2 separate regions of the Homo sapiens genome follow, and region 2 is linked to region 1. The links come from fine-mapping of genetic effects on plasma protein levels. A gene starts in region 1. The other region holds a variant in brackets. All regions are shown on one strand. Distances are between the middles of the regions.

Region 1 (12,072 bases):
CTCAACTACATGGAAACTGAACAACCTGCTCCTGAATGACTACTGGGTACATAACGAAATGAAGGCAGAAATAAAGATGTTCTTTGAAACCAACGAGAACAAAGACACAACATACCAGAATCTCTGGGATGCATTCAAAGCAGTGTGTAGAGGGAAATTTATAGCACTAAATGCCCACAAGAGAAAGCAGGAAAGATCCAAAATTGACACCCTAACATCACAATTAAAAGAACTAGAAAAGCAAGAGCAAACACATTCAAAAGCTAGCAGAAGGCAAGAAATAACCAAAATCAGAGCAGAACTGAAGAAAATAGAGACACAAAAAACCCTTCAAAAAATCAATGAATCCAGGAGCTGGTTTTTTGAAAGGATCAACAAAATTGATAGACCACTAGCAAGACTAATAAAGAAAAAAAGAGAGAAGAATCAAATAGACGCAATAAAAAATGATAAGGGGGATATCACCACCGATCCCACAGAAATACAAACTACCATCAGAGAATACTACAAACACCTCTACGCAAATAAACTAGAAAATCTAGAAGAAATGGATACATTCCTCGACACATACACTCTCCCAAGACTAAACCAGGAAGGAATTGAATCTCTGAATAGACCAATAACAGGATCTGAAATTGTGGCAATAATCAATAGCTTACCAACTAAAAAGAGTCCAGGACCAGACGGATTCACAGCTGAATTCTACCAGAGGTACAAGGAGGAACTGGTACCATTCCTTCTGAAACTATTCCAATCAATAGAAAAAGAGGGAATCCTCCCTAACTCATTTTATGAGGCCAGCATCATTCTGATACCAAAGCCAGGCAGAGACACAACAAAAAAAGAGAATTTTAGACCAATATCCTTCATGAACATTGATGCAAAAATCCTCAATAAAATACTGGCAAAACGAATCCAGCAGCACATCAAAAAGCTTATCCACCATGATCAAGTGGGCTTCATCCCTGGGATGCAAGGCTGGTTCAATATACGCAAATCAATAAATGTAATCCAGCATATAAACAGAGCCAAAGACAAAAACCACATGATTATCTCAATAGATGCAGAAAAAGCCTTTGACAAAATTCAACAACCCTTCATGCTAAAAACTCTCAATAAATTAGGTATTGATGGGACTTATTTCAAAATAATAAGAGCTATCAATGACAAACCCACAGCCAATATCATACTGAATGGGCAAAAACTGGAAGCATTCCCTTTGAAAACTGGCACAAGACAGGGATGCCCTCTCTCACCACTCCTATTCAACCCAGTGTTGGAAGTTCTGGCCAGGGCAATTAGGCAGGAGAAGGAAATAAAGGGTATTCAATTAGGAAAAGAGGAAGTCAAATTGTCCCTGTTTGCAGATGACATGATTGTATATCTAGAAAACCCCATTGTCTCAGCCCAAAATCTCCTTAAGCTGATAAGCAACTTCAGCAAAGTCTCAGGATACAAAATCAATGTACAAAAATCACAAGCATTCTTATACACCAACAACAGACAAACAGAGAGCCAAATCATGAGTGAACTCCCATTCACAATTGCTTCAAAGAGAATAAAATACCTAGGAATCCCACTTACAAGGGATGTGAAGGACCTCTTCAAGGAGAACTACAAACCACTGGTCAACGAAATAAAAGAGGATACAAACAAATGGAAGAACATTCCATGCTCATGGGTAGAAGAATCAATATCATGAAAATGGCCATACTGCCCAAGGTAATTTACAGATTCAATGCCATCCCCATCAAGCTACCAATGCCTTTCTTCACAGAATTGGAAAAAACTACTTTAAAGTTCATATGGAATCAAAAAAGAGCCCGTATCGCCAAGTCAATCCTAAGCCAAAAGAACAAAGCTGGAGGCATCACACTACCTGACTTCAAACTATACTACAAGGCTACAGTAACCAAAACAGCATGGTACTGGTACCAAAACAGAGATATCGATCAATGGAACAAAACAGAGCCCTCAGAAATAACGCCGCATATCTACAACTATCTGATCTTTGACAAACCTGAGAAAAACAAGCAATGGGGAAAGGATTCCCTATTTAATAAATGGTGCTGGGAAAACTGGCTAGCCATATGGAGAAAGCTGAAACTGGATCCCTTCCTTACACCTTATACAAAAATCAATTCAAGATGGATTAAAGACTTAAACGTTAGACCTAAAACCATAAAAACCCTAGAAGAAAACCTAGGCATTGCCATTCAGGACATAGGCATGGGCAAGGACTTCATGTCTAAAACACCAAAAGCAATGGCAACCAAAGCCAAAATTGACAAATGGGATCTAATTAAACTGAAGAGCTTCTGCACAGCAAAAGAAACTACCATCAGAGTGAACAGGCAACCTACAAAATGGGAGAAAATTTTCGCAACCTACTCATCTGACAAAGGGCTAATATCCAGAATCTACGATGAACTCAAACAAATTTACAAGAAAAAAACAAACAACCCCATCAAAAAGTGGGCGAAGGACATGAACAGACACTTCTCAAAAGAAGACATTTATGCGGCCAAAAAACACATGAAAAAATGCTCATCATCACTGGCCATCAGAGAAATGCAAATCAAAACCACAATGAGATACCATCTCACACCAGTTAGAATGGCAATCATTAAAAACTCAGGAAACAACAGGTGCTGGAGAGGATGTGGAGAAATAGGAACACTTTTACACTGTTGGTGGGACTGTAAACTAGTTCAACCATTGTGGAAGTCAGTGTGGCAATTCCTCAGGGATCTAGAACTGGAAATACCATTTGACCCAGCCATCCCATTACTGGGTATATATCCAAAGGACTATAAATCATGCTGCTATAAAAACACATGCACACGTATGTTTATTGCGGCATTATTCACAATAGCAAAGACTTGGAACCAACCCAAATGTCCAACAATGATAGACTGGATTAAGAAAATGTGGCACATATACACCATGGAATACTATGCAGCCATAAAAAATGATGAGTTCATGTCCTTTGTAGGGACATGGATGAAATTGGAAATCATCATTCTCAGTAAACTATCGCAAGAACAAAAAACCAAACACCGCATATTCTCACTCATAGGTGGGAATTGAACAATGAGAACACATGGACACAGGAAGGGGAACATCACACTCTGGGGACTGTTGTGGGGTGGGGGGAGGCGGGAGGGATAGCATTGGGAGATATACCTAATGCTAGATGACGAGTTAGTGGGTGCAGCGCACCAGCATGGCACATGTATACATATGTAACTAACCTGCACAATGTGCACATGTACCCTAAAACTTAAAGTATAATAATAAAAAAAAAAAGAAAAAAGATTCAATGTTCCTGGCATTCAATTGTTTGATTCATCTTCATGATCATGATTGGCATTTTGGTTGCTTTTGTCCTGATATAAACATGTTTTGAGGCAAATAAATAATCAGCCATGGTGGCTTCATGGCAGCAACTGGGCTAGATGGTTTCAAGGTTGCTCACAAATAGGCCTGTTGATTCCCCATCCCCATCCACTGTGAAATTCTCTGTCTCAAGGGAGTTTCCGCTATTTGCATACTTTCTACACGAAGGCCTCCTAGGAGGGTCCAGCCCTAACTTTAAAATTACCTGTGCAAATAGCAAAGACTTTGAACCAACCCAAATGCCCATCAATGATAGACTGGATAAAGAAAATGTGGCACATATACACCATGGAATACTATGCAGCCATAAAAAAGAATGTGTTCATGTCCTTTGCAGAGACATGGATGAAGCTAGAAGCCATCATTTTCAGCAAACTAACACAGGGACAGAAAATCAAACACCACATGTTCTCACTCATAAGTGGGAGTTGAACAATGAGAACACATGGACACAGGGAGGGGGACATCACACACTGGGCCCTGTTGGAGGATCGGGGGCACAGGGAGGGAGAGCATTAGGACAAATACCTAACGCATGCAGGGCTTAAAATCTAGATGACGAGTTGACAGGTGCAGCAAACCACCATGGCACATGTATGCCTCTGTAACAAAACTGCACGTTCTGCACATGTGTCCCAGAATTTAAAGTGAAATAAAATAAAATAAAATTCCCCATGCATTGCCTAGTTCTATGTCTGCATCCAGCAGCACCTGAAATCCCGGCCTGATGCAGCCCCGGCAGTTCATCTCATTTTATTTTGCCTGAAGTCTCCAAGCAAGTTCTCCCAGCTCAAGGGCCAGCATTCTTTCCAACAACTCATCACTCCTCGTTATGCAAAGGGAAGAACACCAAGGGCTTTCTGTATTCTGAGCAATAATTCGGGTAATGAAGTGAGAGCTTAGCCTCTCTTGTGAATGCTGAGGAACCCTAAAACAGCATATCTTTTGCTTCCAAAAAGATCTAGCATAGCAATTTTGTTGGTTCATAAAATGCTCAAATGCTCAAACCATATGTTTAGCTACAATTCCCAATGGCTATATCCTTCTTTATATGAGTAAAAGAGGAGGTTTTCAGCATCAGGTGGAAAAATAAGTATGGGTATTGGGGAAAATAGTCTAAATTTAACTCTGAGTCAGTTCCAAGACAGTGGAGGTGATACCAGGTTCATGGCCTGGCATTTCCCAGCCTGCGAATTCTGCTTCAAGTCTGCAAGTCTGCCCAGTAGGTACAAGACAAATCATACCCAAGGACATTTGTACAGAAACATGAGCCTTGCTAGATCCCTCCCTTGTGCAGGGTAGCTTCTATGAAACATATAGACCAAGCAGACTTCCACATCAGTGAATACATTTGGCCATCTGAAAATACAGAGACTTAACACATATGGAGACCTGTGGCTTCCTCGGGCCAGCCTCAGTTTGAAAGCAAGGGTGAGATCTTTGTCAGACACTCACGGGACCTGTGCTGCCCATAAAGGAAGGGGCCCTTCTCTCAGGACAGCACAAGGGAAAACACCCACAGCCGGAAAAGAAGGTGTGTCTCAGCATGACGGAGGCTGTGTGCAAATTATTCCTTGTGCCAATATCAGGAGTGTGGATCTGACAAACAAAAGGCCATGTCATTGGCTTAGTGTCTCTGTGGAGTCTGTAATGGTCCTTTTACTTACTTGAGTCCTTTCTAAGATGGATTTTGTTCATTTTCCACTAAGATTGCAGAAGCTGCACGTGGCGTGGCAGTTTATGAATTGGGTCCCCTGGCAAGGCTCTGAAAGACAGCTGGAGTGGGGGTGGGCTGTGTGTGTGAAGCCGCTGCACAGAGCTGGAGTCGGCTGTCCACACAATCACGTCTATGTGAGAGCCGGCAGCCTGCAAACTGCTTCCCTGCAAGGGGAGACACATGCCAGGGGAGGGCCAGAGAATTTTGTTAATTCTGTTTATCTTAGAGACTGTTTTTTTGTCTGCTGGGGGAAATAAAAAACAAATACATAACTTCCTTGCTTGTGTGCAGTCTGATTTTTTTCTCTCTCTCATGCCCTCATTTTTATTTCTCCGAAGTATCTCTCCCCTTCAGTTTGGGGCATCAGTTTATGGCATTTTTCCGTACATGTGTATATAGTATCTATGCACAAAGTCAGAGATATAAATGTCTGTTTTAGACTCTTTTGGCTTTAGTGTTCTGTGGAGGTCCATGAGATATCAGAGATCTCATTTTCTTTCTGTTAACATAATTAGCAGAGCTCTCTCTGTGCTCAGAGTGCATAGCTGAGTCCCGCATAACCAGCAATAACAGTGCATTCTTAGCAGCCTCCCTGGATAGTTTGCTAAATTCTTTCTGAGAGCCTCTCGCTGCCTTTACAAAGGTTATAGCTGAAAAACAAACCAGAAACTGGGAATCCAACTCTGTGAGCAGAGAGAGGGCTGCACATTCTATTATCGCACGGATAGAGGCTCAGGTTCATGCAGTCGCGTTTGGAGTCCTGGCAATTTCAGATGAAGGCCGTCCTTAGGAAAATCAGCTATCCCAAGCCCAGGCAGTCTGGGTTAGCCGAGGTTTTTGTTTGTTTTGTGGAGTTTTTGCTGGTTGGTCTTTTGTAGATGCTGCAAATCACAAATGGGGAACCTGAACGACACAAGCTTTTTCTTCTCCGTATCATTTTACCTGGCCAAAAAGGCAAAAGAAGGGGAAGGTGGCATTGCTAAGTCACAGGGAAGGATATGACCTAAACATCCCCCCTTCCCCAAGTAATCCGGGAGCACCACTCCCCTCTGAGGACCCCACAGGTACTTTCACAGTCCAACACACTGAGAAACAAGCCCACAGGGTGCCAGGATGACATGACCACAGAGAAAAGGGACAGAAGGAGTTTGGGACACATGCACGGACACCTGTTGCTTTTGCAGACTTGAACTTAGAAAATATGAGCCTCATTAGAATTTCTCTTTCTAAAATAAACGACCACTTTTAATATCGTCAAATATCATGTACTGCTATAGTTCTCTGTCCTCCGCACTGAGAATCCAAAACAGGTCCTTGGGATAACTTTTGGGAAACAATACCGCCACGAAAACAAAAGTCTTCTCAGCCAAGAACACAGATTTTTTTTATCTACCTTTGATGTCCCAAAGGACTAGAGAATCCAGAGCATTTAAATAAGACTCCAATGCCAGGAGCTCACTGTTCCCTGCTGGATGCCAGCCCTCCCCTCCCTGCCCAGAAGAGGACATGGTACTCACCAGTCATTAGGGTATAATAATTGGGATACGAGAGACTAGGGAAGTCTGGAGTCAAGTAATCCACTTTTACTCCCCTGCTCACAATCTCTTTGAAACCAGGCAATGACTCCAGCGCCTCATCACTGATGTAGTCTGAGCGAAAACCATCCAGCAGAAACACCAGCAGCTTCCGGCGGGCAGAGGCTGGCTGGGCCAGGCCCAGGGCAAGGGCCAGCAGGAGGGTCCCAAGCTTCACTGCCATGCTGCCAGGAGCCTGCCAGAGCCCGGCTGGCACAGCTGTCGCCTTGCAAAGACTGAGGATGGAGAATCTGTAGCTATTCTCTCTTCCAGGGGCTGGACCTTGAGCCGCTGGCCTTCCTGAGTCAAGTTCACTTGCAGAATTTAAAGGAACAGCACCCCCTTTTCCACACATCTATGCTCACCCTTTACTAGAAAGTCCAGAGACCGACTCCTTCAGATAAACTGGGTTCCAAACAACCCAGAATTAACACCAGGGGAGAGAGTTCAAACTTATTATTTTTGGTGAACGTTCCAGAAATACAAGCACCCACAGAGGTGGAATTTTAGAAGATGACAAAGTCAACACTAACTTTGCAGTTGAGCTAACCAAAGGGAGGAACCAAGGAAAAGGGCAAGATTTTAATTTGCTGTTATCCCACATCATGGCCTCATTTAAACTCTTTTTCACTTAGAATTTAGTAACGCAAACCTCTGGACTCAGTGCATAAACAGGAAACAATACGTTTCGGTGGGCCCATTTGTAAACTTCCCAGCTGTGTCTCTGTAGACACAGCACTTAAAAAAGTTATTTGTCTATGTCTTGGCCACTTATGTTTTTATATGCAGTGTTATTATTTGTTATTATTTTATTTTTCAAATGTGATTTAGCTGCTGGTGCCCATAGGAGGAGGTGGTTCGTAGAAGAGCCCTAGAGCCAATGAGAAGCTTCCAGAGTTGGACAATGGGAAATCATTACTGGCAGAATGGTCTGAAGCAGCATTGCCCCAGGAGGATGGAAATGAAATAGAGAGCTGGAGATTGAGAGCTTGAGATGGAAAAGCAGAGCTAGAAATTACCATGCAGGCTTTGGGACCGAGAAGACTAGGCGGAGTGGAAAATAGGAGGAGGTTAGTGACAGGGAGGCAGATGTGAGCTGGGGAGCAGACAGAGTTAGCACAAAGTACCCAGAGTCCAGGGGTTCCCTAGAGTGGCTCCGTCATGCTACATAAAATTAAACAACACAATTCATGTGAAGGCTTATAAAACATGGCTGAGTGCAGTGGCCCACTTTGGGAGGCCAAGGTGGAAGGATTGCTTGAGGCCAGGAGCTTGAGACCAGCCTGGGCAACACAGCAAGACCCCATCTCTATAAAAAATTAAAAAATTAGCTGGGCCTGGCGGCACGTGCCTGGTCCCAGCTACACAGGAGGCTGAGGTGGGAGGATTGTGTGAGCACAGGTGGTCATATCTGCAGTAAGCTGTGATTGTATCACTGCACTCCAGGCTGGGCAACAGAGTGAGGCCCTGCCTCAAAAAAAAAAAGACATAAAACATGCATGGTCCATAGCAAGTGTTGAACAAATGTTAGATGTTATTCGCATTATAACATTGCTTGTCTCCTGAGGAAACTTGCAGGCTCTGGGCAAACTTTCCAGGGAAGGAAGATAGACACCAGCCACACCAGCCACTCTCAGTCAACCCCAAAATCCCTCTTCCACCTCTGCCCTCTGCTTGTGTCTTTTCTCCTTCTCTTTTTCTGTTGTATTTGAGTCAAGCCCAAACACAGGATCACCATGTCACTTTTTAAATTATGCTGCAAAAGAGAAACACATTGGCCAAATTACCACTCCCCTCTCAGGGGACTTGGCCAAGGATCAGAATTCTTTTTTCCAATAAGAGGTAATGCTTTTTATAATTAAATTTAAATTTTTTTCTTATTAAAAAATAAGGAAAAGGGGAGTTTATCCTAAAAGGTTGTTACTTTGAAAACAATGTTATTCTTTTTTCTTTGAGCTGTGTGGTATTGTTGCTATAAACAGAGAAAAAGAAAAGAGAGAAGAAAGAGGAAAGGAAGGAAGAAAGAAAGAAAAAGGAAAGAAAGAAAAGTAAACGAAGGAAGGGAGAAAGAGAAAGAAAGGGAAGGGAAGAAAAGGGAAGAAGGAAAGAGAACAGAAGGGAAGAGAAGAAAGGAAGAAAAGGGAGGAAGGGAAGGAAAGGGGAGGGGAAGGAAGGGGAGGAAAGGGAAGGGAGGGAAAGGAAGGGAAGGGAAAGGGAAAGGGGAAGGGAAGGAGGAAAAAAAGAATAGAAGGGAAGAAGGGAAAGGAAGAGAAAAAGGGAAGAAAAGCGAAGAAGGGAAGGGAAGGGAAGGGGAGGGGAAGGGAAGGGAGGGAAAGGAAGGGAAGGGAAAGGGTAAGGGGAAGGGGAAGGGAAGGAGGAAAAAAGAATAGAAGGGAAGAAGGGAAAGGAAGAGAAGAAGGGAAGAAAAGCGAAGAAGGGAAGGGAAGGGAAGGGAAGGGGAGGGGAAGGGAAGGGAGGGAAAGAAGGGAAAGGAAAGGGAAAGGGGAAGGGGAAGGGAAGGAAAAAAAAGAATAGAAGGGAAGAAGGGAAGGGAAGAGAAGAAGGGAAGAAAAGCGAAGAAGAGAAGGGAAGGAAAGGGGCGGGGAAGGGAGGGGAGGGGAGGGAAGGGAAGGGAAGGGAAAGGAAGGGAAGAAGGGAAGAAGAGAAGGAAAGGGAAGGTGAGGGGAATGGAAGGGAGGGGAGGGAAGGGAAGGGAAAGGAAAAAGGGAAGAAGGGAAGAAAAGGGAAGAAGGGAAGAGAAGAGATGGGAAGAAGGGAAAGGGAGGGATGGGAAGAAGGGAAAGGGAGGGATGGGAAGAAGGGAAAGGGAGGGAAGGGAAGAAGAGAAGAGAAGGGAAGGGAAAGGGAGGAGAGGGAAGGGAAGGGAAGGAGAAGGGAGGGGAGGGGAGGGGAAAAGGCAGATGCAGCCTGATGGGTTGATGGGCCTCCTAGACACTGAACATCACATGTGCTAGAAGGAGAACTTCTTCCCCTGGTGAGGGCCCATGGAGGTAGGAGGCCCAGATAGCTGTGCTCTGTGAGTTCCTGAGAGGCTCAGGGATTGTCTGGACTGCGAAGCTGGAGTCACAGTGCAAGTCCAAGTGATTTACTTTGGGATGGCCTCTGAGCTCACTTTGGGATGGCTTCTGAGCTCACTTTGGGAGAGGTTAAGCACTCCAAATGTTAAAGATGAATATAAGAGGGACTTCCACTTTTCTCCACTACTAACAAGGGTACACTCAAAATATGGCTCCCTGAGTGCCTCATTGAGCTGTTGTGGGTGTCAACTCAGAAGTAACTTGCTTCAGATTAGCGTGTTCACAGGTCCCCAGAGGCTCCCAAGGCTCCACAAAGATTGTTGTGATGTATCTGGGGTGGGGTCATCATTGTTTTATGATAATGTTTATGATCATATTGTGTTATGACCATGTTTAGACAATGTCTCTAAAGCTTTGGATCAATAAATGATTGCCAATATGAATCTCTAATATACATACCAATATATGAAGAAAGAGACGTATTGGATGGAATTCAAGCCAAGGTAATCCTAGGGTTGCTCAAAGCCAGTCTCCAGGTCTTGAACCGTCTAACCTAGAAAAGATTGGAAATGAAAGCTAAAAAGCAATAGTTAAAAGCCATATGTCATACAGGTGGTTAACATTAAGTGCCCAAAGTCTTGTGATCCAAAACCTATGTGTCTATGATCTGGATGTCTTCACTTGGGAGTGGTTATCAGTACCTAATGCTTATAAGTGCTTATTGCAACTTGTTTTCAAGGGTTGGCAATACTGTAAAGTCATTGTCCACAGGGGTTTCACTTAGATAATGCAAAATATGAAAAATTTACTCCAGAAGTTGAAAGAACCTTTGTCCTAAAGCTGCTGCAAGTCTCTCTAGGGACATGCATGAGCTCTCAGGAAATGTGCTGTCCAGATTAGTCAGCACCCTGGTGCCTCCCCTTTATGGAGAGACAGGTGAGATGGAAGGGAAAGAGTCTCAGAAAAACAAAACAAAACAAAACAAAATAAACAAACAAAAAACACAAAAAAAACGTGATTCCAGAGTCAAGATCCTGGTATGATGCAATTGTGTGATTCTGAAGAAATTGCCTTTCTGGGCTTCAGTTTTCACCTCTGAAAAGTGACAAAGCTCTAGCTTCTACTTTCTAGCTGTAGAATCAATGCAATTTGAGAGTGAGGTCCCAAGTCAGCCCATGTCGGCCAACATCCACCCTTGTTGGTCCTATTAATTAATTCATCCCAGCTTTTGCAGCCCTGCTGGCCTTTTGTTGGTCCATGTCAACCCTCCTTGTATCTGGAAAAATATTATTTAAAATTTAAGACGACATAAGGACATTTTTAGATAAACAAAAGATGAGAGAATTAGTTACCAACAGGCTTGTACCACAAAAAAATACTAAAGAATGTCCTTTGAGAGGAAATAACACAAGATGAAAATTAATATACACAGGAAGGGAAAAAAATTCATAAATGATCAATATGTGAGTACATATAAAAGACTATGTTTTTCTTTCATAAATGTCCTTAAAAATAACTGCTTAAAGTAAAAAGAATAACACTATGCTGCGAGTGATGACTTACGAAGAATTAAAGGATATAAAGACAACAGCCTAAATGAAAGGGGTAGAATGTTTGAATGGAATTAAGCTGTTGTGAAGTTCCTTGAAATTTATGAAATGGGAAAAGTCAGATGTCAAGAGCAAAATGTAAAGTGATTGAATATTTATTCTAACTAGACTGTAATAAGGATGCATATTGTAATCCTCAGAGTAACTACTAAACAACAACAAAAAAATACAAAGATTTTCGACTAAAAGGTCAGTAGCGAAAGAGGAAAATACCTCAACATAATAAAGGCTATATTTGAAAAGCCCACAGCTGACTTCACGCCCAGTGGTGGAAAGCTGAAAGCTTTTCCTCTAAGAGCAGTAATAAGATATGGATGCTTGATCTAAACACTTCTATTCAACATACTGGAAGTCCTAGCCAGACAATTAGGCAAGAGAATTATAAATAAAAAAATAAAACCATCTCTGTTTGACAATGACATGATCTTACATGTACAAACTCCTAAAGATCACACACACACACACACACACACACACACACACACACAGAGCATATAAGTTGCAAGATATAAAATCATCCAAAAATCAGTTGTGTTTCTATAAAGTAACAATAAACAGTCCAAAAATAAAAATAAGAAAACAGTCTCATTTACAATAGCATCAAAGGGAACAAAATACTTGAAAATAGGCTGGGTGTGGTGGCTCACACCTGTAACCTCAGCACTTTGGGAGGCCAAGGCGGGCAGATCACTTGAGGTCAGGAGTTTGAGACCAGCCTGGCCAACATGGCAAAA
Region 2 (12,072 bases), 16 kb before region 1:
CTAAGCAAACTTGTGTCACGTGGGTTTGTTGTACGGATTATTTCATCACCCTGGTATTAAGTCTAGTACCCAATAGTTATTTTTCCTGATCCTCTCCCTCCTCCCACCCTCCGCTGTCCGATAGGCCCCAGTGTGTGTTGTTTCCCTCTATGTGTCCATGTGTTCTCATCATTCAGCTCCCACTCATAAGTGACAACATGTGGTATTTGGTGTTCTGTTCTTGCATTAGTTTGCTAAGAATAATGGTCTCCAGCTTCATCCATGTCCCTGCAAAGGACATGATTAACCATTTTTAAGTGCACACTTCAGTGGCATTAAGTACATTCACACTGCTGTATAATCATCACCACGTCTGGCTCCAGAATGTCTTATTATCCTAAACTGGAAACTCTGTACCCCTTAAAACTAACTCCCATTCCCCGTCCCCACAGCCCCTGGCAACTCGCCTTCTACGCTCTGTCTCTGTGAATTTGACCACTCTAGGTAACCTGATATAAGTGGAATCATACAATATTTGTCCTTTTGTTTCTGGCTGATTTCACTTAGATGAATGTGTTCAAGGATCATGGATAGATTTAGGTTTATTTAAATAAAAACTGAGAAATGCAGTATTTCTTATACACCCAAGTCTGTGAACTTGAATTCACTGTACACACAGAGTAATTTATTAATCTTCCCCTAGGTTTAGCTTAGACTCTCATCTGACCCAAGACTTCTTTCTCTCTAATCCTCCACATCCAGCTGGTCCTGCAGGTCCTTCTCCACAGAGCTGATCAACTGCTTGACCTGAGGTTCATTCTGGCCCTGGGAACTCAACTCCCAGGCTCCATCATTTTCAACTTAGACTTGAGTGGCCTCCCTTGGCCCTGAAACTTGCCCTGCTCAGAGATGTCACAGTCATCATCCCAAAGCCCAGCTCTGGTCTTCAAACGCTCCTTGTCACCCCATCTCTGCCCCTTGGCTTGTGCCATGCTGTTCACCCACGAGGCCCTTCCTCCAGGTTTCAAGCTGTCCGGATCCTTCAGGCTTTACTCAAATAACTGTCGCCTCAGCGAACCTTCCCTCTTCACATACACTCTCAGAAATGAGCTGTGCTTCCCCTGTGCCTGTTCTATCCTGTACGACGATTATATTCATTTTGACACATATTTAATTGCTTCAACTTTATTCAAGCTTGTTCAGGACAGAGGCCATGTCCTGGCATCTTAAGAACTCTTACAAAGTAGAAATTCAGTATATTCTTGAATGGATATTATTCATGTATGAATGCAATGTATGACTATGTATGTCAATACTATATGTTGGTGTAATTACCAAAATCTGTGGTTCAGACAGTAAGTGGAAAAGGAGTTAGCAAGTGGATGAAAATAACAAGATCTCAAGGCACCATCCATCTCTGAAATGTTACAATCTACATGTCAAAGCCTTTTGGAAGGAGGGCATCTTATTTTGGCTTGAAAGAGAAAGACAGGTGGAGGAAAGCCAGGGCTTGGGCTGTGGGTGTGGTAGAGGATGGGAGTAAAGCTCTTACAGAAAGAATAGATGGTATCAACAAAGAGAAGGACTGAGAGTTCCCAGAGAGGCCTCCAACAAAAACCAGGAGGTGAAAAGGGAGAGGTGAAGAGATCATGGTTTAAATTCCATCCCAACAGGCGTCTCACAACTGGCTGCAAGAACCCTGATGGTCCTCTGGTTTGAAGGTTAGGGATCAGTCTGATGTCCCCTGAGGGAATCTCATGAGGTCAACTTTCAAGACCCCCCCACAGCTAGCCAGTCAGTTCAAAAGAACAGGCAAACAGGTGGTTGGGGATTGGGTAAAGTCTCTTTGTTTTTATTAGATTCTTTTAGCTTTTAGCTGGACGTTATAATACATGTTGACACAGGCTGAGAGTGAATTCCTTGGAATGTGCTTTTCTTATCTGTTCCATCAGAGCTTGATGGGATTATGTAAAGGGTGTAAGCAGCCAGTCTTCAGTTATTATTCACGGCACTAGAAAATAGAGAGGATGGCCAAGCTGAGTCCAGAAACCAGCCACAATCTTCTACGTGGCTCCACCTCCCCCTGGGCCAAATTGTTGATGAAATCTACACATGCACCACACACTCTCTCTCTCTCACTGCTTTGAATCTCATCTCCATCTCAGATTGTACCTCCCGGGAGATGTTAATGAGGCTGAAGAAAGAAGCAAAAGCAACCCAGGGAAGTTCAGCATTGAAAGAGTAGAGTACTCAGAATAAGGTCGAGAGCTCAGGCAAAAAGGGCAACTTGGGTACATGGCGAGAGGGGCTGGAAGAGAATGCCTGGGCTTCCGTCCCTGATCATCTAAGGGATGCCAGATGCTGGCCCCGGCTTGGAAACCTGCACTTGGTGTGGTTTTTCTCCCTTTATCTGGTTCCGGATCTGCATCTTTGGCCTCTGTGTCCTGCACAATAACACAAATGCACTAGCATCTCTAAGTCATCCTCTGCTTTTGGCATTTTGTAATTCTGAATGCCTTTGGGGGAAATTTGGATTGGGATGTAGTGGATTTTGTTACATATTCCCAAGCTCATTCATATAGTTTTAGTGTTATATCTTACACAGAAAAATGCATGCTAAAATAGACTATGAAAGTCACTCATAGAAATGTGCAAGGAGGGATGTCATGGTTTGGGACAAGGCCAGCCAGCTAAGCTGCAGGGGAATGGGCCAGACTGGGAGTAACTGGAACCTGGAATTAGATCCTCCCACAGAGACCAGTGAACACCAGGGATAGCTCTGGGTGCTGGGAAGTCCAGGACAACAGGATGAACACAGCAGTGGTGTTGCTGTCGGCCTTAAGGGCGAGAGAGGCATCCAGTATGAAGATGAGGGGAGAGGACTTAGAGGCCCATGGAGCTTGGCCAGAAGAATCCAGAAGCCAGTGAGATCAAAACAGGCATATGATGCACTGGGCAGTTTGTTAGAAAAGAGTGCAACCTCAGCCAACAGACGGGGCTTGGCAGCAAAACTCCAGAGCCTTGTAGAAAGATGGGGAACCCAAGGCTTCTGCCACAGAGCTGGGAAAAGCCCAGGCCCTGGCTCTGAGCCAGTGCAGTCCAACAAACACAAATCAATGTCTTCTCTGAGTAAGCACTGGTCCCCAACGTGGAGACGGTCCACACTCCACTGCCCCTGAGGGAGTGTAGACCAACAGTAGTGGGGATTACTGCAAGGACAGGTCTTGCCTGCAGGGACCCACCTGCGAAATGGGAGCCCTTCCGAGGCTGTACACTAGGGGAGGTCTCATAGATGGCCTTTAGTCCTGCTTCTCAGAGGGGCAGTGGCAGCTCCCAGAGGTGGTGGCACTGAGAGAAGGATAGTGACAAAAACCTCAAGCTTGGGTGTCCTGAGCCCTGGCTGGTCACCGTTTGCAAGTCTGCAGTGCAGACTGAGAAAACCAAACCAAAGCACAAAACATTGCTTTAGGTCCACTAGATTGAGGAACATGTATTTCAAAACTCTTTGAATGTGAATGTATTTCCCTAAATCACAAATGGGGATTTAATCAATATTGAACAAAATGTCTGCTTGTTCTACTAGAGTTGAGCAAGTCTCATTAGATCTGATACAAATTTTTCACTTAATATTGCAAATAGGTAAGTAATCCACATTGTTCAAAAACATAGGCAACAAGATGTCTGTGTCCCATCTTGTCTCTCATCTGTCCAGTTGCCATCCAGATAGGTACCATGATTCCTGGTTTCTTAGGCATCTTCAAAGGTATGTTTTCCCTCCAACTGGCAAGTACCCTATGCTGGGGCCCTGATGACCTGAATGGCTGTGTCTCCTTGCAGGGGCTCTGGGAAGAGTCTGGCTGAACAGAGAAGGAGAGAGGCCGCCTCCATGCCACGAAGCATATGTGACCAGAGACCAAGGGAACACGCATGAATGGTTTTAACATAACTGGCTACTCAACACACAGATCACGCTGCTTGGAACGTCTCAGGCTAAGTGACATGGCAGCATTTTCCAGGGGCTGCTGGAGCCGAGGCGTCTTCTCTCAGGCTCCCTGATGCCTTGACGTGCCCCAGCCTCAAAGTTACCCATCTTCCCTCTTTGGTGGGCTCTGTGATGAGATATCTCACGGGCTGGGGGGCTGTTGTCAGGAGTCTGGGCTGCCAGGCAGGGGTTGAAGTGGGCTGGGGGGCAGGTTCCAGGCTAGGCCCATGGTCTGCTAGTGAGTGGCTGAAGAACACAATATTTGAGGTTTTCTCCCAAACATTTACGTTTCTGTACGGTGGCTGCTTTCAACCTTTAAAGAATAATGTTTTCTCAAGTCCACCTGTGAAAGCCAAATCCTTAGACACACAGAGGATCTTTCAGGGAAAGCTAGACATGCGGCAGAGCTGATGGGCTACTGTGATTGATTTGTGTTCAGAACCTGGAAGGAGAGCCCAAGGCTTGGGTGCCACTTAGGCAAATTCTGTGGGTGTCTCCACCGTGACATCCACAGACACAGGACTTCTGTCTGCTGCCGTCCACCCTTCCCTCAGGCCAGTCCTTGTTAGGGGCCATCAGTGTCCAGTGGGATTAACTATAGAGCACTTTCTTCATATGTACAAAACAGGTCGAATTGGAGCTACTGTGATCATAAAACAGGGCAAGGGACACAGCGTCTCGCTGGGAGCCCACCCCAGTCCCCCCACTTTCCGTCTGCTCCCACTCAGTGGGCCCTAAGAACCTCTCTATGGTATTTCCAGCACCTAGAACACTCCCAGCACACATCCCTGATATCATAATTTGTGCTCCTAATGTCTCAAAATGGAGTCACTCATGCCAAATATCAGTAAGCCCACTGTGAAGCTGTCTCCCTCCTCAAAGCGATATACACATATGCAATGGACTGAAGTGATGACACCTGCTGCTGCCCAGTGCCACCCAACCCTGAAACAGACCAATAGAAAGTGAAAGGTGGCTTAGATGATGAGAGCAAACTCATCTGGGAGGACAATAAAAGCAGCCAAGAACTGGCCTCGTTCAAGACACCCTTAGAGCCTCTGCCCATGAGAGCTCTGAAGCCTTCTCCCAATTTTGGCATCTGATGCCAGAAGCGGTGAGGACCCCATTGACCAGCGTCCCAAGGACGTCCGGACCCACTCGGCACATCTGTTGGTGTGCTGCTCTCCCGAGCCATCGCCGCGTTTCCTTACCACACTGTTATTACTGCTTGTGTGTTGGTTAATTACATGATCTGTGGTGCGTGGAGGCCTCTCAACAAAAGGTGGATTCAAGCATATGTAATTGGCTATCGAGTCACTGTGAACCTTTTTGGCTTCGGTTGGGGTTAGCACACCTAGTTGGCCAGAACCTAATTAACATCAATTGCGCACTCACTAAATGCACAACCAACCTCAGGGCTCCATTTGTCTGGTCTTCTCACGCTAAACAGCAAGAGTGCAGGCCCAGGAAGATGATGTAATGTATCCAAGTCCCTGCGGACTGTGGCAGTCAGGAGAAGCCGGCTCCTCTGCCCCCTTTCCCTGCCCTGTGGCCCACACTGCTTCGCAGCCTGCCCTGTGCAGATAATCGGCTGGGCAACCCAGGTTGAGTGGATGAGACTGCTCACCACCAAAGGTGACTCCCGGGGGACCTGGCCTCCTGGCACACCTGGAGCCCACTCCTGGTCCCTAGCACTCAGCCTGGGTTGTTCTGCTGCAGACATGTACACACATTCTCCCATGCACGTGCTCTTGAAGGTGCCCTGGGTAGTTCCTTCATCAAGAAGTAAAGATCTTCAGTATCCTGGACCAAAGTTCCATTGCTCTCAGCCCCGACAGCCCTTTGTCTAAATAAGGTGGCCCACGCATCCTCCCATGATCTGCCTTCTGGATCTTCTCTCCTTGCTGTCGAAAGGGCTGATGATGGGAGTCGGTTCAGACCAAGCAAAGTATCCAACAAGAGTCAAACACAGCACGCGCGCCCCCAGGACCCCCAGCTCTGCCCCAGGTCTCTGCCTGGTTATCGTGTGGACACAATGGACCTATTCATGGAGAGGGGCTCTGAAACTCGAGCAGGTGTTGCTGAAGGTGTCTCTGAGATGAATGTTAACCTGCTGAGTCAGGCTCCCTCCAAATTAATCTGAAATGCCCTTTAACCCACTTTTGGCACAGCACTCATGCTGAGCAGGAACTGGAGCTGCAGGGGTCAAGCCATCCCCAAAGCCTTGGCAGGAGGCACATGATCCTATCAATCAACATTGGGGTGAGGGAGGCGGGGCGGGGGGGTGTTGTGAGATCGCCATGGTGTGTAGACCGCAGTGGCTCCACGTGGACAAGCCTTCTGGAAACGCCTTTGCTGTTATTACAATCAAAAGCTTTCACCACATTTTACAGCTTTGCCCCCTACTCTAACCACTCCCTTCTTCATGGAGCAAGTTTCCAGCAGCTGAATGCCATATAATCAGAACACCCTCTGGTCACCATGGAAGCCAAAAGAAACATACTTTTTGAAAAGTGACACTTCAGTGCAGAGAGGTCTGTTGATAGGAGCTTAAATAATGATGTGCTGGGAGACATTATTTTAGTAAATTCTTAGAACACATTTTTTTTTTTCCTCAGGGCATGGCTGGTTAGTAGTGCTCTTACCCACTTCTAGCTTCAATTGCTGGACACCTCGCCTACCATGCCTGCTTCTTTAGGCAGCTTAATCGAGGCTCATTACAGAGAGTATAGTTTAAGTGGAAAAAATGTTGTTAGGTGTCTCTGGGAAGTATATGACAAAATGTTGACAAAAGTTAATTCAGGTGGGAAGACAGATTTTAACTGTGCATCCGTGAGAAATATTCTCTACCAGCTGGGTAGCAAGCAGTGAGATAGGAAGTCCATTTACTGGGGTCCACTAGGACCCACAGGATCAATTTCTCTCCTTTGCCTCAGTGGTATTCTGCATGCTTCTTGAACTCTCCTTTAAGACATGGTCTCTGATCCCCTAAAGGGCTAATGCCAAGTGAATATCTTACTCAAATTGAAATATAATTTGATGAAAATTACTTTTCCAAATAAATCTCACTGAGATTAATAGCCCTTCAAACTTTCCCATCTGTGCTAATGAGAGCCCCTTTACTCAGACTTCAGAAGATCTTGCAGCTGTGGCATCTGTTCAGGCTCTTCTTTCGTATTCACTCATCAGCCAATCAGCAAGTTCTGCCTCATGGGTGCCCTTCAAATTCAACTCTCCCCCTCACTTACAGCCCATCATAAAGGATAGATGCGGTGAAGTCTGGAGTGGAACAGGAGGGGAGGAGGAGCCTGTTGGACTATCCTTTGGTATGGCTTTCATAGACTTTCATCAATTGCACGTTTTTGACACACTCTATTCTCTGCAACCCCCGACCCACACCCAGATGGCAAATGGGCTCAGCACCCCTCCTTCTGACCTGACCACGCTCACTTCTCCTCCTTTGCCCAAACTATCCATGATCACAATGTTCTATTTTATCTTTTACCTCTGCCATGAGAGCAGCATGTCTCATTTAGAAGTTGCTTTTTTCAGCCTGGGTCCCAGAATGAAGAGGAAATCGGAGGGGAGGTCATTCCTCAAGGCCACGCACATGAGTGAGGAATAAACCTGAGCTATTCTAAGACAGACGTGGTGTGGAATTGCTTGTTGCAACAACATAACTCAGCCTCACCTTACTGATAAAGGGGGTAATATGTACACTCTTACTAATGGTGAGTTTACACATATATTTGCTCATTCTGTTCTCACAGCAAGCCTATTGGGTAACATTTACTTTCTACATTCTACTGATAAAATATTAACACTCACTGGACACAATGGCTCATGCCTGTAATCCCAGCACTTTGGGAGGCCAAAGCAGGTGGATCACCTGAGGTCAGGAGTTTGAGACCAGCTTGGCCAACATGGTGAAACCCCATCTCTACTAAAAATACAAAAAAAAAAAAATAGCCAAGTGTGGGGGCAGGTGCCTGTAATCCCAGCTACTCAGGAGGCTGAGGCAGGAGAATCGCTTGAACCAGGGAAGCGGAGGTTGCAGTGAGCTGAGATCGTGCCACTGCACTCCAGCCTGGATGATAGGACGAGACTCTGTCTCTAAAACAAAACAAAACAAAATATTAACACTCAAAAGAAGCTGTTCAAATTCTGAAAGTCAAAAAGTGACAGAATAGATTAAGTTTGATCTTTGACAGCTAAATCCGTAACTTTCTCCACTGGACCATGCGTAATGGGTTGACTTGTGGCCCCCAAGAAGATATACTGAAGTTCCCAGCCTCAGGACCTGTGAATGTGACCTTATTAGAAATAAGCCCTTTGCAGACATAGTCAAGTTAAGATGATGTCATTAAGGTGGGCCCTAATTCAATATGGCTGGTGTCCTTACAAGAAGGAGAAGCACAGAGGAACACAGAGAATGCCCCGTGACAATGGAAGCAGAGGTTGGAGTGATGTATCTACCGGCCAAGGAATACCGAGGATTGCTGGTGACACCAGAAGGCAGGGGAAAGCGCAGAACATGTTCTCCCCTTGAGACTTCAGAGAGAACACGGCCCTGCCCGCACCTGGATTTCAGACTTTGGGAATCCAAATTTGCTATAGCAGCTCTAGGAAGCTAACACACCATGACTGCCTCAATTTCAGGGCAGAAGTCACCAGAAACTCTCAGTGAGTAGGTTTGGTCATGGAAGTGGGCTGTGTAAAAAAACCCTGCATTTTTCCATTAGCAGCCTAGTGTCACGATCCCGTTTATATTGCTTTCCAATGGCTGTCAGGACAAAGTAACACAGGCTGGGTGGCTTAAACAAAAGAAATCTAGTTTCTTACAGTTCTGGAGGCTGGGAGTTTGAGATCAAGATGTCATCAGGGTTGATTTCTTCTGAGGCCTCTCTCCTTGGTCTGCAGGCAGCCGCCTTCCCCCTGTGTCTATATGTGGTCTTCC[C/T]TCTGTGCCCGTCTGGGTCCTAATCTCCTCTCCTTATAAAGATACCAGCGATACTGGATGAGTGCCCACCCTAGTGACCTCATTTTACCTTAATTACTTCTTTAAAGATCCTATCTTCAAATACAGTCACATTCGGAGATATTAGGGGGCAGGGCATAAACACATGGGTTTTGGGGGTGTACAAATTAGCCCATAACGTGGCCTGATATTTTTAAACATCTAAGTAGCTCCTTGCGATGCTGGCATACATAGCCTGGCCACCTAAGCAGCCTGGGACAGAGGCTGAAAACACAAGAGTGGCCGTGCAAGTCCCTTTAAGCTGCCACATGCGTCCCTAGGTCCGACAGCCAGACCACTCGCACCTAGGCCTGAACCGTCCTCACAGTGTTCCACGCTGGTTCTGAATCATGTGCCTGGTTCCATGCGTGGCTGTTGGCTCCACTTTCTCGACTTCAGCGATCTTCACTACAAGGAGGCTCTCCCTTGGGCTGTGCTGACCACTGGTTCCTGGTTAAACTTTCTCCCACCATCCCCAGTCTCTTTCATCTCCTACTTTGACACAGCTCTCCTTGGAGGTGACTCTCCTTCCAGGCCTCTTTCTGACTCCAACCTTATAATCAAAATTTAAAACAAAACTGAAAGACACATTTTGAGATATGTAAGATTACTAGACGTAAAGGGTAATCAGTTCACTAAATGCAAATTGCTTTCATATGAGCAAAGCATGATTGTAGTTTTTTCTCCTCCTTATTAGTTTAGAAGTGTCGAACATCAAAGTGATCATTCATTTCCCTGAAACTCTGAATGTCTTAATCATCATTATAATGCTTTTTCGCTATAGTAATTTTTTTTTTGAGATGAAGTTTCGCTCATGTTGCCCAGGCTGGAGTGCAGTGGCACCATCTTGGCTCACTGCAACCTCCTCCTCCTGGGTTCAAGCGATTCTCCTGCCTCAGCCTCCCAAGTAGCTGGGATTATGGCACCCACCACTACAACCAGCTAAATTTTTTTGTATTTTTAGTAGAGACAGGGTTTCACCGTGTTAGACAGGCTGGTCTCGAACTCCTGACCTCAAATGATCCACCTGCCTCGGCCTCCCAAAGTGCTGGGATTATAGGTGTCAGCCTCTGTGCCCAGCCCACTATAATAAGTTTTATTTGGAGAAGACAGAAATAAATAATCTGGTGCCGTGATGGAAAATAAAGAAAGTAAGAGGGAGAGAGAGCGCTGGTGGGGTGGCTGGGGAAGACGCATCCGCCACGGTGACCTTGTGGGGCAGATCTGAAGAATGCAGCGATGCCCAGCTTGGGCCTTTCTGGGGAACAAGCAGAAGGGAAGCAGCCAGGAGGAGCAGCGTGCTCAAGCACGCCCAGCGGGACACAAGCAAGCGAAGAGAAGGGTGGTGGGAGCGAGGCCCCGAAGGGGCTGGGTGACCTATAGGGCCAGGTCTGCAAGAGCGTTAGATTCCACTTGGGGTACAACAGAACCCGCTGGAGGGTTTGAACAGAGGAGTGGTGTCATCAGGACTGCTTTCCCAGGGCTGCTCTGGTTGTAGGGCAGGCACTGCTTTCAAAACAGGGCTGCTCTAGTTGTGGGGCAGGCAGCGAGAGGGAGCTGGAGTAGAGGAGGCTCCAGGCAGTCAGGGTGGTGGCTTCAGCCAGGGGTCAGCAATGGAGGTTGGGGGAGGAGAGGCTGAGGATCGACCTTGAAAGGTCAGCTGATTTCACTGTGAGACAGAGGAAGGTCAGGGAGATCAGGAGGAACCAAGGGAAAGGATGAAGGAGGAGTGAGTAAAGTAAAAGGAAACTGAGAGAGGACAGGGTCCTGGGACCTGTGAGCCGTCAGGCAGATGCAGCTCCCAGCCAGGGAACTAAGGCTGGGAATGACCAGGACGCCCGGGAGGACACTGTTCCAAACAGAAGCTTCGCTGGATTTGGTGCAAGAGAGAGTAGGAAGACAGGAAGAGGGCATGCCGAACAGAGATCATTTATTTCAGGAGGTACCTACATTGAAGGAGGCTCACAAGCTGGGGCAATGTCCCCATGTAAATGCTAATCCTGGGGGAAGGAGGGCGGAGGGGACCAGGGAGGCTGTCTCCACCCTACCTGGAGCTGTGCGTATGCAGAGTCTGTGAACAGCCCCTCAAAGGAAGCTTGAATTTTTTTTTTTTTTTTTTTTTTTTGAGACGGAGTCTCGCTCTGTCGCCCAGGCTGGAGTGCAGTGGCGCGATCTCGGCTCACTGCAAGCTCCGCCTCCCGGGTTCCCGCCATTCTCCTGCCTCAGCCTCCCGAGTAGCTGGGACTACAGGCGGGCGCCACCAGGCCCGGCTAATTTTTGTATTTTTAGTAGAGACGGGGTTTCACCGTGTTAGCCAGGATGGTCTCGATCTCCTGACCTCGTGATCCGCCCGTCTCGGCCTCCCAAAGTGCTGGGATTACAGGCGTGAGCCACCGCGCCCGGCCAGGAAGCTTGAATTCTGCAGAAGGCTGAGGATGTGGGCTCTCTCGAAACACGATTGTTCAAGTACTTTCTGCATTGATTGCCTTTGGTCCAGTTTTAATTTAAATCAGATGTTTTCTTAAAAGGTGGGGTGGTAGGAAGTATACCTTACTCTGCTGTTTTACCCCAGAACATGATATCTAGTAAGAATTTGTGTCACAGGTGATTTCTAGGAGTGCGAGACAAAATGCCGTGGCACAAATAGTAATGCTGAGTAGTTAACATCCCTGTTGTTGCCTTGATTTCCACAGAGGAGCACGATGATTCGGTCTCTCGCTGCTTCCCGGACTGTCTTGGGGAGATCTCTATCCTTGGGTCTCAGGTCACTCGCACAACCTTCTGGCCACTCTAAGATGCAGGCTTAGGCCCTGGCCAGTTACTGTGTGAGAACGGGACCTCTGATGCCTACTCGCCTAGGCGCTGGCCAGTTGCTGTGTGAGAACGGGGTCTCTGATGCCTGCTCCCCCATCTCAGCTCTGCCACGACGTTCTTTGGTGCCTGAAACAAAACATTGAATTTCCCTGCACTTTATTTACTAGTGTCTAAATGTTGAAATAATAATAATATACTGTGGAACAAACTTATTTCAGCATCTGTTCATCTCTTGGTAGTTTACTGGCAGTAAAGATAAAATTCTAGACTGGCTTCCCCGCTA

Direction of the effects. Positions count from the first base shown, and alleles are read on the strand shown. Strength reflects both the effect of a copy and how common the allele is.
As copies of C replace T in region 2, the plasma level of the protein whose gene starts at base 6,928 in region 1 goes up (moderate association).

The links. PIP is the chance, under the fine-mapping model, that this variant and not a neighbour inherited with it causes the effect. The UK Biobank Pharma Proteomics Project read protein levels with antibody pairs (Olink). The fine-mapping took linkage between variants from a reference panel, not from the people measured, so its PIPs are less certain.
Region 2: its variant is fine-mapped to the plasma level of the ENPP6 protein (UK Biobank, PIP above 0.99).

Annotation. Positions count from the first base shown.
Region 1 is chr4:184,210,946-184,223,017 of GRCh38, forward strand. It overlaps ENPP6 (ectonucleotide pyrophosphatase/phosphodiesterase 6), which reads right to left and starts at 6,928. Exons shown (of 8, transcript NM_153343.4): 1 at 6,634-6,928. The coding sequence starts at 6,874.
Region 2 is chr4:184,195,176-184,207,247 of GRCh38, forward strand. The region is part of intron 1 of ENPP6 (ectonucleotide pyrophosphatase/phosphodiesterase 6); the gene reads right to left. Among named protein-coding and RNA genes, the nearest start is that of ENPP6, 17 kb to the right of the region's middle. The variant C/T (reference allele first, on the strand shown) is at 8,919.